3 separate regions of the Homo sapiens genome follow, and regions 1 and 3 are each reported to be linked to region 2. The links are microRNA targets in miRTarBase. Many come from high-throughput screens and were not tested one by one. Region 2 holds a microRNA gene; each other region holds the end of a gene's coding sequence.
Evidence for each region. Region 2 holds the annotated microRNA hsa-miR-1321 (CAGGGAGGUGAAUGUGAU, at 2,326-2,343, shown strand). A microRNA usually pairs through its seed, bases 2 to 8, with sites in the 3' UTR of a target mRNA and lowers its output. Matches are read on the target gene's strand: a 7mer-m8 pairs with bases 2 to 8, a 7mer-A1 pairs with bases 2 to 7 and ends in A, and an 8mer does both.

Region 1: miRTarBase lists SENP2 as a target of hsa-miR-1321. Seed matches in the 3' UTR shown: 7mer-A1 at 2,501-2,507, 7mer-m8 at 2,184-2,190, 7mer-m8 at 2,180-2,186, 7mer-m8 at 2,163-2,169, 7mer-m8 at 2,159-2,165, 7mer-m8 at 2,148-2,154 and 5 more.
Region 3: miRTarBase lists TMEM138 as a target of hsa-miR-1321. Seed matches in the 3' UTR shown: 7mer-m8 at 3,676-3,682.

What each region holds. Positions count from the first base shown.
Region 1 is chr3:185,629,393-185,633,635 of GRCh38, reverse strand. It overlaps SENP2 (SUMO specific peptidase 2), which reads right to left. Exons shown (of 17, transcript NM_021627.3): 17 at 85-3,854. The coding sequence ends at 3,792. Among named protein-coding and RNA genes, the nearest start is that of SENP2, 45 kb to the right of the region's middle.
Region 2 is chrX:85,833,507-85,837,749 of GRCh38, forward strand. It overlaps MIR1321 (microRNA 1321), which reads left to right and starts at 2,274; the gene lies at 2,274-2,352.
Region 3 is chr11:61,368,297-61,372,539 of GRCh38, reverse strand. It overlaps TMEM138 (transmembrane protein 138), which reads right to left. Exons shown (of 5, transcript NM_016464.5): 5 at 3,031-3,943. The coding sequence ends at 3,831. Among named protein-coding and RNA genes, the nearest start is that of TMEM138, 8.0 kb to the right of the region's middle. RefSeq lists an enhancer at 2,509-2,768.

The DNA of each region.
Region 1 (4,243 bases), not on the chromosome of region 2:
ATCACACTGTGTGTGTGTGTGTGTGTGGTCACAACATAAAATACTTATTCCTATGAGTTGCAATAAAAAACAAGTGAAAGCCACTGAATTAAAGAGATGAATTTATTGGTAAATAGATAAAATTAACACCTATTTTAATATATCCAAACCCCTTCCTTATATATATTAGGTAAATTAAAAGAAAAAAATTATCAAAGCAATACTACAGCCAGCTACATCGCCAATTTACAAATGAGTTAGTAAGTACCATAAGTTTGTTTGAATATCAGGTGCTTCAGAGTTTTTCTCAAACAGTTACAAAAGAGATTAGGTTCCCAATCAGTTCACAAAAGCTAATTTAAAGAATGTAGCTTAACTACAGTACTGAGGTTGTCACACACTTAACTTTCGGTCTCTTGCTTATTTATTCATATCTGAGGTTCACTGTTTCTACTAGGATACATTCCGCCCACACCCACACCTTGGTCCCCACATCAAGCAGCTCCTCACAGCAGGAAGACATCCGCTATCAGACATGGTTTTCTGAAGTTGTGCTTAGGATTTCAGAGGAGGAAAAATTCAGAGGTTCTAATAGCCTTCGGTAACTGAGGTAGAATATGGGGCTCCCAAGAATATCTTCCATATGCCCCAAATCTGTTTCCCTCCCACCCCCATCCAGCTCTGTTCAAGGTCAAGTTTGAGAAAGATACGTGTTCTCAATGGTATATTTTTAAAATCCACATCAATTTTTAAGAGACTACCTGCTAAAGGAGAATAATGGCTCACTGCATCTTTTCTCAACCCCCTAAACTATTTTAAAAACACACTGGCAGGGACAGGTGCAATGGCTCACGCCTGTAATCCCAGCACTTTGGGAGGCCGAGGCGGGCAGATCACTTGAGGTCGGGAGTTTAAGACCAGCCTGACCAACATGGAGAAACCCCGTCTCCACTAAAAATACAAAATTAGCCAGGGGTGGTGGCACATGCCTGTAATCCCAGCTACTCGGGAGGCTGAGGCAGGAGAATCGCTTGAACCTGGGAGGTGGGGGTTGCAGTGAGCTGAGATAGCGCCATTGCACTCCAGCCTGGGCGACAAAAGTGAAACTCCGTCTCAAAAACAGGCTGGGTGAGGTGGCTCATGACTGTAATACCAGCACTTTGGGAGGCCGAGGCGGGTGGATCACCTGAGGTCAGCAGTTCAAGACCAGCCTGGCCAACATGGCGAAACCCCATCTCTACTAAAAGTACAAAAATTAGCAGGGTGTGGTGGTGGGCACCTGTAATCCCAGCTACGCAGGAGGCTGAGGCAGGAGAATCGCTTGAACCTGGGAGGCGGAGGTTGCAGTGAGCTGAGATCACACCATTGTACTCCAGCCTGGGCGACAAGAGACTCTGTCGCAAAAAAAAAAAAAAAAAACAAAAAAAAAAAACAAAAAAAAAACCACTGGCTTTAATGGTGATAATTTGCTACTAATAAAATCAATAGCTGTTTTTCAACTGAACACTTAAACTTTTAGATCCAAATAAACTGTTTGGATCTAAAAAACTATATTACTAACATGTTTCCTTATGCCAAGGGAGACATGTGAGTGCCTAGAGAAGTATGGCCTGTGGTCTCCCACATTCAATTCAGGAACTCAGGGTCAAGCAGAAGGCCATGCTATAGACTTCAACACTCTGCTCTTCCCAATTTCATTATGTCCTGCAAGTTTTAAGAGCCGTCCGGAAGAGTGTAGGTTAATGGAAAGCTCAGTGAGAACTGCTCTGAAGAAGCCCCTCAAAATAATACATTAAGCTCAGCATCATTCACGTGGGCGGAATACAAACTGACATTCCTAACAGGACTTACCTAGCATGGACTCGATCTTAACCATGGTACCAAACTCTCAAGTGAAGCACACTGATGCCTGGTGAAAGCCAGGCGTTTGGTATGATGCTGACCTAGTGAACCTCTGGCCTTTTTGGCTGTGCTCATTACCTGGTCCCAGCACTCACTGGCACAATGCCAGGAGCCCAGAGAAAGGAGCAGGGGCTGCGGGGGGGGGGGGGGGAGGGGGAAGGGGGGAGGGAGGGTGGGGAAAGGGGAGAAGGGGGGAGGGTGGGGGAAAGGGGGAGGGTGGGTGTTAGGGAGAGAGGGAGGGGGAGGGAGGGGGAGGGGGGGGAGGGAGGGAGGGGGGAGGGAGGGAGGGGGAGGGGAGAGGGAGGGAGGGGGAGTGGGAGGGGGGGGGGAGAGGTGTGGTACAACCTGCTCCCGCTTCAGTCATCACCCACCACATGGCCTCTGGCTGACCATCCAGTAGGCCCAGCATTTTCCATCCACACCACAGGCCCCATGTCCTAAACCAGGAGTTTTACAAGTCTCAGGGAACTGGCTGCAATAGCTGTAACCAGTATACCTCTGGGACCAGCAGCCGGAGCACTGCAAATGGCAGGCGTGTAGATTCATAGGTAACACGTGCACAATTTTTCCAGTTTTACCTCTTGCTTTTATGAACCAGAACAAGTCTGGGAGGTTTAAGTAGGGAGAGGGTTAGAAATCATTTCAGCATATACTTTTTTAGGTTCTGCCAGACCACCTTTTATTACATCAGAAAAGCAACACTAGGCACTAGATCTTGCAAAATATGTTCTGACCAACTCTAAACTGTCTGAAGTTATAACCATATCAGTAAGGTTTTTAATGAACAAAAAAGTTAAATACAAACTTTCATATGCAAAATAGATTATTGTATAACTGGCAACCTCAGAGCCAAGTACTAAATTTTCTTCCACAAATTTCAGTGGGGATGGAGTGGGGAGATGTTAGTCTTAATGAGTAGAAAACTTAATTTAGACTTAATATATAGAAAACAAAAACTCTGAGGAAAAATAGCTTTAAATTGAATAGTATCTTTTGAAATAAACAGCTCAGGCCAGCCCCTACAATTCTGAGGTTTATACTCAACCAGATCTGGGATGAAAATGAAGATTTAGGGTTTACAGTTACTTCAAATCCATGAATCCAGTTTGAAGACTAAGCCAAGTCACCACATTTCCAGAAGGGGAAGTCTCTTTAAGGTGACCACAACACTCTTCGGAAGATGCTTGGATAATCAGAGTCCCTTGGGCACAGTTCCACTGTTCACGGCACTGTGCCAACGCTGTAGTGTCAGACTTCCTCTGAAAGGCAACAGGAGCCCTATCCCACAGCATTTTCATTTCTCCCAGCATTTTTTGAGCCTCAAAAAAACAAAAACAAAAAAAATCCCAAACCCTCCAGCTTCATGTTGGCAGTTACTGCTCCAGCTCCACTTCCTTCCGCCCCCAGTGAGAGTTCCCTCCTGCTCTTCAGCAGGGAGTGGCAGCTTGAGTAACATTCCTTTCAGAAATAAATAGTTCAAACAAGTAATTTAGAGCTAACTGTAAAAGAGCAGCAGTAAATGACCACTGCCCATTATGTTTGCAAACGAGTGAGTGAATGAATACGCTGAACAAACACACAGAAACAAACAATTCACAGAATAAATCCTGCATTTCCCACATTCATAGGGAAAAGAATCTCTTAAAAAAAATATTAGTTAGCGTTTGTTCTTGTGTGGGTTGAACAGTCCAAAGCTCTGAGCAGGCACAGCCTTACAAACAGGATTGCAAGCAGCCCTCTGCACCCCAAGTCAGGACTAGAGTACAGTGAGAGGCCTTCATGCACTTTTGACAGCTCAGTACCTGTGAGAACAGAAGTGATGCAGGGACTTTTTAACCCACAATGCATGAGGTATATGGAAATGTCTGTGAAAGAACCACCAGCAGCTAGAGGGACCAGGCAAAGTTTTCTCACAGCAACTGCTGATGAAGGATTTCCCACACCATCTTCTTCCGGAAGAGAGGCATCTGGTGCTGCAAAGAACCCCATAAACAACGCCCGCATTACATATTAATGTGCATGGCAGCACAACCTTCAGGTGTAATCATGTAATAAAGCAGGATGTCCATGTGCTTTTTCTAAGTGTTGACATTTTTACATCATGGAACATACTTATAAAACCATTTTTAACAGTTCATAATTACATGATATGTACCATAAGCACTTTTTTTTTTTTTTTGAGATGGAGTCTTGCTGTGTCACCCAGGCTGGAGTGCAGTGGCGCGATCTGCTCACTGCAACCTCTGCCTCCTGGGTTCGAGCGATTCTTGTCCCTCAGTCTCCAGCGTAGCTGGGACTACAGGTATGTGCCAGCACACCCGGCTTATTTTTTATATTTTTAGTAGAGACAGGGTTTCACCAT
Region 2 (4,243 bases):
GCACCATGATATGGTTTGACTGTGTCCCCACAGAGATAATTGAATCATGGGGGCGGTTTCCCTCATCCTGTTCTCCTGATAATGACTTAGTTCTCACGAGATCCGATGGTTTTATAAGGGGATTCCCTGTTCACTGGGCACTCATTTCATTCTCCTTCCTGCAGCCCTGTGAAGAAGGACGTGTTTGCTTCCCCTTTCACCACAACTGTGAGTTTCCTGAGGCCTCCCCAGCCATGCTAAACTGTGAGTCAATTAAACCTCTTTCCTTTATAATTACCCGGTCTTGCATAGTATCTTTGCAGCAACATGAGAATGGACTAATACACACCACAAAAAAAAAAGTTAAGATGAGGTGACAAATATAGGAATCAGCTTGATTTCAACATTGCATAATGTGTGCATATATCAAAACATCACATTGTACTCCGTAAATATATATAATTATTTTTCAATTAAAAATTTTCTAATTAACAAAATAAAAATCACTTCAAATCCTACCTTGAGTTTACTACTTTAATATGTTTCCTATAAGCCTCATTTCCATCAAGTATTTTTTCTTTGCTCATGTGTATGTGAACAAAATCAGGAGATATATACTAATAATTTTTTATTCTGATTTTTTGTATTTAACATTAAAGTATGTACATTGTCATTTTGATTGGCTTTCTTTGATTTGCTTACAGGGAACAATTTGGAAAACAGCACTTACGGACTGTAAAGACTTTTTCCAGGAACAAACAAGACAAGAACTTTGTGCTAATATATTACAATGAACCTAGAAACATTTTTCATATCACCAAAGGAAATTGCAACTGGGGGCAAAGAATACTCAGTATTGGCTACTTTCATGTCACATAATCACTCTTATCTGCATGTGAGACAGCGTCCATAGTAGATGAAGGCAAGGGAGAAGTGGATTCTGAATGGCTTTTGAGTAGTAAATATTCAGTGTCTGTCATATTAGCTCACATGACCTCACAGGCCTTCACTAAAAAAGTGTTTAAGATTTTAAAATACTGGGCCATTGCATTGTCATCTTTATTTATGAACTGTAAGCCTGTCACTTGGGAGCATTTTCAATGAAAACTTCTCATACCTTCAATAAGTTACCCTTCAGTGACTGTTTTTGTTATTGCTTTGTTTTGAAAATTATTTGGGGATAAGGACTACCATTAAATTTTTTCTGTGGTGGGTGTGTTATGTAAAATTAAAGGGTTTAATGCAGTTTATCTCAGTTGGTTTAACTCAACATAGATTGAATCCCTACCAATTGACAAGAACTGTGCAGATCAATCTAGAAATGTACAGTCTAATGTCATTGAGGAGTGCCAAATGATATATTTTCCAAGTAATATAGAGACCACATAGCTTCTAACCTCATTCCACTCACTGAAAATGATGGCTCTAATAATAAAAATTTTCAGGGGTAGACCACTGAAGTTTAGCAACTCCCTAGATTTGGCAGCAGACAGGAAACTGAGAGGGGCACACATTACACTTGAGTTACTTAATTGAAACCTTGCTCCTCCTCCTCCCTCTTCTCCTCCTTTTCTTTTTTCATCCTTTCTCTACACTCTCCCCTTTTTGCTTCTTCTTCTCTATAGAGACCTTGGTTCTAGTGCTTTACTCTCATGTAAAAGTTTGGGAAACTCAAATTTATTTATTAGAACATTATTATTCCAAACACATTTGAGAACATCAAGTTTCTCCCCCAAAATGATAATTCTATTACTTCAAAAATGAACAAGAGAGAAGAAGAGGGGGAGGGAAGAGAGAGAGAGAGAGAGAGAGAGAGAATGTCTGAACATATAGTGGATTAGAATAACTATTTATTTGGAGGAAAAAAGTAGAGTAACGTAATTAAACCCTGAATAATATTTACTGATAGTTTTGTTATATAAATGTTTAAAAATAGAGCCGTGATACCTATTTGGGATTAACAGTAGTTCCAAAGGTAAGAATATATAGACTAATAACATAAATTTCACAAATTGTTGCATTGTGACATTAATAATATATTTCTAAATGGGAACAATTATCAACCACCGATAAACAGTCAAAACAAAGAACCCCAATTTATTCAGAGATGTGTAAAGCTGGGCACACCTCATTCATAGATTTTTTATTTTTAGAATTCTCGACATATTAAATTTTTCTGAGGAAAAAATGTATATTCATTTATTCATACTCATTTTTGAACTAACATTTATTTAAGGTCCACAATATGCTAGATATTTTATATTATTTTTTGATTACTTAATGCAAATATAGCAACATTATGAAGCAAGTATTATTATCCCTGTTTTACAAATAAGGAAATAAACTCAGGGAGGTGAATGTGATCAAAGATAGATATATAGTTAAGAAAGTTAAAGAGACAGGATTCAAGCCTAAGTCTGTCTGACTTCAAATCTCTCTTCTTCCCACTATTTATTGCTCCCTATGAGTTTATATTAATGAAATCTAAAATCCCACTTAAAACCGTATAATGAAGAAATTAAGAAAACCACCTGAGATAGTGATATAATTTTTCTAATCACTAAATATTTTTTTCTTAGCTCTTCTTGTGGAACAATATACAATATGATTCTTGGGATTGGTTGAGCATGTCTGCCTTATTCTAACTCAAATTTATTTAAGATATGTGTTTTATAGTATTCTGCTACTGGAAATATTACAAATACAGTAATAAAATATATCATTTATTAAGTAAAATAATAAGGAACATGAGTAAAACATTTTGCCTATATTATGCCAGCAGCTATGCTATGCACTGGCAACACACACAGGCTTACAATGAACCCAGAGGTGGGAGCATCTATGTCACCAGGAGAAATTTAAGGATGATTTAACATTTAAAAACTATTAATATGGTTTATTACATTAATAGATGAAAGGAGTGAAAAACATGATCAGTGCTTAGCCCATAGTAGGCAGTCAATAAATAGATGCGGAAAAGGCTTTGGTCAAAATTCTAGACCCATTCATGATAAAAGCTCCTTAGCAAACTAGAAATAGAAGTCAGCTCCCTTAACTTAATAAAACCTACAATAAACATACACTAACGGTGAACTGTTTTAACCTTACCTTTTTCACAGCCAGGAAAATTAGAAGTATGTCTAGTATCACCACTTCTGTTTAGCATTGTATTGGAGGTCCTTGGCAGTTCAGTAAGACAAGATAAAGAGTTAAAATGTATAGGATTGAAAAGGAAAAATAAAACTGTCATTGATCACAGATTATATAATTATCAACATAGAAAACTAAAAAGAATTATAGATATATTATTAGTAAGAGAGTTTAGCAAGGTTATTAGCTACAAGATCAACATATAACGTTAATTTTTTTCCTATACATCAACAGCAAATTATTATAAAAGAAAAGTTTAAGAAACAGTATATGATGCCTTGGAATACATAAAAGATGGTCAAGACTTTTTAATTAGTCAGGTAATGTTCGCTATGCTGTGGTAACACATAATCCCTGAAATAGCCATGTTGTAACACAACACCAATTTATTTCTTGCTCCAGTTACAGTTAATGTGAGTCAGGTGGCTCTCTGGCACAGCTTCCCTTTAAGAGCTGACTCAAGATTCCTGGAAGCTTCCAAACTGTGGCAATGCCATCTGGACTACTAGTTAGTTATAGAAAGGAGAAAAAGGAATGCAAGAGGCAAACTGGCTCTTAACTGCCCAGCTACCTGAACTTATCTTCAAAGTAGAGTGGGAAATGCGGATCTGAACATGGATATTTGGTGGACACTATCAGTGTCTGCCAAAAGGTATAATATTATTTAGAAAACATAGTAAAAAATTAAATAAAATGAGTGATATACCCTCCCATTCATGGATGGGAAAGTGAAGTAATATTGAATGCAATTCCAATCAAACTTGCAACAAGGATTTGCGTGTGTATGTGTGTGGAACTTGACAAAATGATTCCGAAATGTATATGAAAGAGCAAAGGGCCAAGCATAACTAAGACAAAAAAAAAAATGAGGCAGAAAGGCTGACTCTACCAGGTATCAATACGTGTTCGAAAGTTACAGTAATTAAAATAACATCATCTTAGTATAGGAATTGACAAAATAGCAATAACATTGAATATAGTCCAGAAACAGATTTCATGTATAAGAATTTAATAATTGATAATGGTAATATTTCAGATTAGTGTGAAAAAGATGATCTCAAAAAATGGCATGAGGAAAATTGGATATTCATATATGAAATTTTATGTTAGATTT
Region 3 (4,243 bases), not on the chromosome of region 2:
AAGTGCTGGGATTACAGGCGTGAGCCACCGCACCCAGCTTTTTTTTTTTTTTTTTTGAGAAAGAATGTTTTCCGGCTGGGCACGGTGGTGCACGCCTGCAATCCCAGCAACTCAGGAGGCTGAGGCAGGAGAATCATTTAAACCCAAGAGGCAGAGGTTGCAGTGAGCTGAGATCATGCCATTGCACTCCAGCCTGGGAGACAGAGTGAGACTCCATCTCAAAAACAAAACAAAACCAAGAACCTTGCCTTCTATACCCTCTCATGATCTTAACTGCAAACATTTCTGTGGACTTCAACACTTTAGGTAGAATTGAATACTTCAATTCTTTAGGCAGAATTTAACTTTTTTTTTTTTTTTTTCTGAGACAGAGTCTTGCTCTGTTGCCCAGGCTGGAGGGCAGTGGTACAATCTTGGCTCACTGCAACCTCTGCCTCCCAGGTTCAAGCAATTCTCCTGCCTCAGCCTCCTGAGTAGCTGGGATTACACGCATGTGCCACCACACCTGCCTAATTTTTGTATTCTTAGCAGAGACAGGGTTTCACCACGTTGGCCAGGCTGGTCCTGAACTCTTGACCTCGTGATCCACCCCACCTCGACCTCCCAAAGTGCTGGGATTACAGGTGTGAGCCACTGTGCCCGGCCCAAATTTAACCCTTTCAACCAGTTGCCAATCAGAAATCTTTAAATCCACCTGACTTGCAAGGCTTCCCCTTTTGAGATGTCCTGCCTTTCTGGGCAAAATCAATGTACACCTTGCGTCTATTGATTTATGTCTCTGATTGTAACTTCTGTCCCCCTAAAATACATAAAATCAAGCTGTAACCCAACCATCTTGGGCACGTGTTCTCAGGACCTCCTGGGGCTTTGTCATGGATTATTGTCCTCACATTGGCTCAGAATAATACATCTCTTCAAGTATTTTAGAGTTCGGCTTTCTTTTTCATCAATACAAGCATCATCAGTGTGAAATCTAACAAACTCTTACTTTAGGAGCTAGACTTAGATTGCAGGCAGACCTGAAGTAAGAATTGGCATGTCCTTGTTTTATAGGACATCTTGAAAGGGTTCAAAGCCAGCACAGAACAATTTCTGAGGGCAGTCATCTAAGGATGCCTGAGGCTTTTTTCCTTTCCCTGGGGGTGTGGGGTCGGCCTAAGGCATAATGCTTTGACAAAAGGCTGTGAAGTAACAGAAATTCATTTGGGGCTGGGAATGGTGGCTCAGTCCTGTAATCCCAGCACTTTGGGAGGCCGAGGGGGGCAGATCACAAGGTCAGGAGATCGAGACCATCCTGGCCAACATGGTGAAGTCCCATCTCTACTAAAAATACAAAAATTAGCTGGGCGTGGCGGCACGTGCCTATAATCCCAGCTACTGGGAAGGCTGAGGCAGGAGAATCACTTGAACCCAGGAGGCGGAAGTTGTAGTGAGCTGAGATCGCACCACTGCACACCAGCCTGGTGACAGAGCTAGACTCCATCTCAAAATAAAATAAAATAAATTCATTTATTTGGGAGAGGGGGGCGGTGTTGCGTGACTCAGTCTCCAGGCTTAACTTTCCCTTTGGCATAATGAGTTTGGGGGTCCTGAGATGTTTGGGGGCCCCCAGCTGAGGTCACTGCAGGCTAGCCAACTGCCAATGGATCCCAAGGCCATCACAGCTGCCTAGCTGACCTGCAGCTGACACATGAGCGAGCCCAGCTGAAACCACCCACACTTTCCCGTTTCCTATGTATCCTATAGTCTATGGAAGCTTTCATGCTTCAGTGTCGTGGTTAAGTGGTTGTACCCTCAAGACCTCGAATATTTACTATCTGACCCTTCTTAAAAAAAGCTTGGCGACCCTGCCAAAGCATCTCTGAAGAACAAGTTTCACAGAGCAGCTCTCTGGTGTGAGAGACTGGGTGAATTAATGGCCCCCATTCTTTACTCTCTCTGTATCCATGCCTTTGCCCTTGAAAATTTGTAGTGCTTTTGAGACAGAGTAGAGACAGGGTGTGGCTTCAGCTCACCCCCACTACAGCATCCTTTCATGCATCCCCACTGACCACAAAACCCACCCCTCTACCTTGCTGATGTATCCACTATCATCAACGCTTTAGTCATACAAAGAAAATCGCCATTTTGTATTCATCTTCTGTGCTCTCACAATGTTTAACCAGGCCTTTTACTTAAAGAATTCCAGGAACTGGCCTTAGGAGGTCCAAAATATCAAACCAACATTGTGTGTGGACTGTCCCTCCTCAGGAAAGAATACAGATTTGCTGCCATTGGCTAGACTACCTGGTGGTCCATTATTCAAGATAACCCTTACAACCAGATGCTGACCTGCACACCCTACCCTCACGTGCTTTGTCCAGCCCAGCCTGCCTACCCTACCCGAGGTCAATTCCAGTGCTTTGCCTAAGAGAAAAATCCCTGCAGGCTTTGTTTGGAGTCAGTCAGGGAACTCTCTCTTTGACTTGTGTTGTGTCTCTTATGCCCAGGCATAAGCTCCAATGAAGCCTTGTCGGCAAATTCTTTTAGCCTCATGTCAATTTCTATAGCAATGAGAGTCTAAGAACTTGTGGTTGGTAACCGTTTGCCACTTTGTTTCTGGGCTTAGTTGCGTGACTTGCCTTGATCAACAGGAGTCTAGGAGACACAAGACAAGCACAGGCTTGAAATGGGGTTGCATACTGGGACTTTCCCGCTCTGCCACTGGCGTGTGAGCAGATCCAGGCTAGTCTGTGGGAAGTAAATCTGCAAACTAGAGCTGAGTAACCACAGTCACTCCAGCTGAGGTCAATGAAGGCTAGCCAACTGCCAGTGGATCCCAAGGCCATCGCAGCTGCCTAGCTGACCTGCAGCTGACAGACACAAGAGTGAGCCCAGATGAAACCACCCACACACAGCCTTGATCAGCTGAACCCCAAGACAAAGAGCCAGGCAGCTGTTGATTGCTGTATGCCCCTGAACTTTGGTGGTGGAGTTACACAATATTCTGGCAATAGAAAACTGATACTACGGACATAAGAATTTTAAAAATTTCTTTTGCCAAAGCTGGCTAAGGGAATATTTTTATTCTTCTGAGGGCAGTTAAGGCTTCTGATAAGGAAAGAGAGTCTGAACAGAGCACACACATCTGGAGCTCCAGGAGTGGGGGATGCAGCATCAGATTCCATCTTGAATTTCTGCTAAAATACTTTGTACTCATAATGGATCTCAACAAAGATCTGTATTTCATCTGTGGCTCCATCTTCCCTCTGGGTCAAGTAGATGTTAAGCTGGACCTTGGCACGCCTCTTAACATGAAGAGATCTAGCTAGACAGACAGACTCCCCCATTTATGGAACAAGAATTCAATTTATTCTCTATTTATAAAACATTTTTTTAAAGTGCCTTGGGTATAAAAATCTAAATGTCTGCGGTGTGATCAGTCAGGAGCACGTAACTATCACTCTTCGCATCCTTTGGTCACTGGGAGATCCTTTGGGGGCTGGGAGGTCCTTCTGTCCCAGGCTAAAGGAAAAGCTTCACAAGGGTAAGAGCCACAGAACCCTCGGCAAGAAAGGCCGGTCAGGGAGAATGAATGGTACAGAGAGGAAAGGAAGGAAAGGGGGTGGAACAGAGGTAGAAGGCAAGGAAGGGATGCCGCACTGGAGACCGATGGGGACACTCTAATTGTGCAAGAGGGAGGATCTTCCTTCTTGAATGCTGAACACAGCTAGTCTGAACCTTCCTTGGAAAGTCCAGCTGTTTGCCCATGCATAGGGCCAACTCTCCCTGCAAAGCAGCAAATGTGGCTTCTATCAGGAAGGAAAAGTATCCATCAGTGTGACAAGAGGTCACCTTCGAACTTGCATGAACTCCTTGCGCAGCCACAAAGAGTCCTGGTAGAAGTGAGGATCGCCTAGTCTTACGGCTGTCCGTTTATAGAAGTAGCAGTACAACACTGCTGCTGTGGGGAGGAAGCAGAAGAGAAGCCTCAGGGGTGCTCCTGAGTATCATTTCAGGTTAAGAACAGAACCTGGCCAGGCGTGGTGGCTCACGCCTGTAATCCCAGCACTTTAGGAGGCAGAGGCAGGCGGATCATGAGGTCAGAGATCGAGACCATCCTGGCTAACACGGTGAAACCCTGTCTCTACTAAAAATACACAAAAAATTAGCTGGGCGTGGTGGCGGGCGCCTGTAGTCCCAGCTACTCCGGAGGCTGAGGCAGGAGAATGGTGTGAACCCGGGAGGCGGAGCTTGCAGTGAG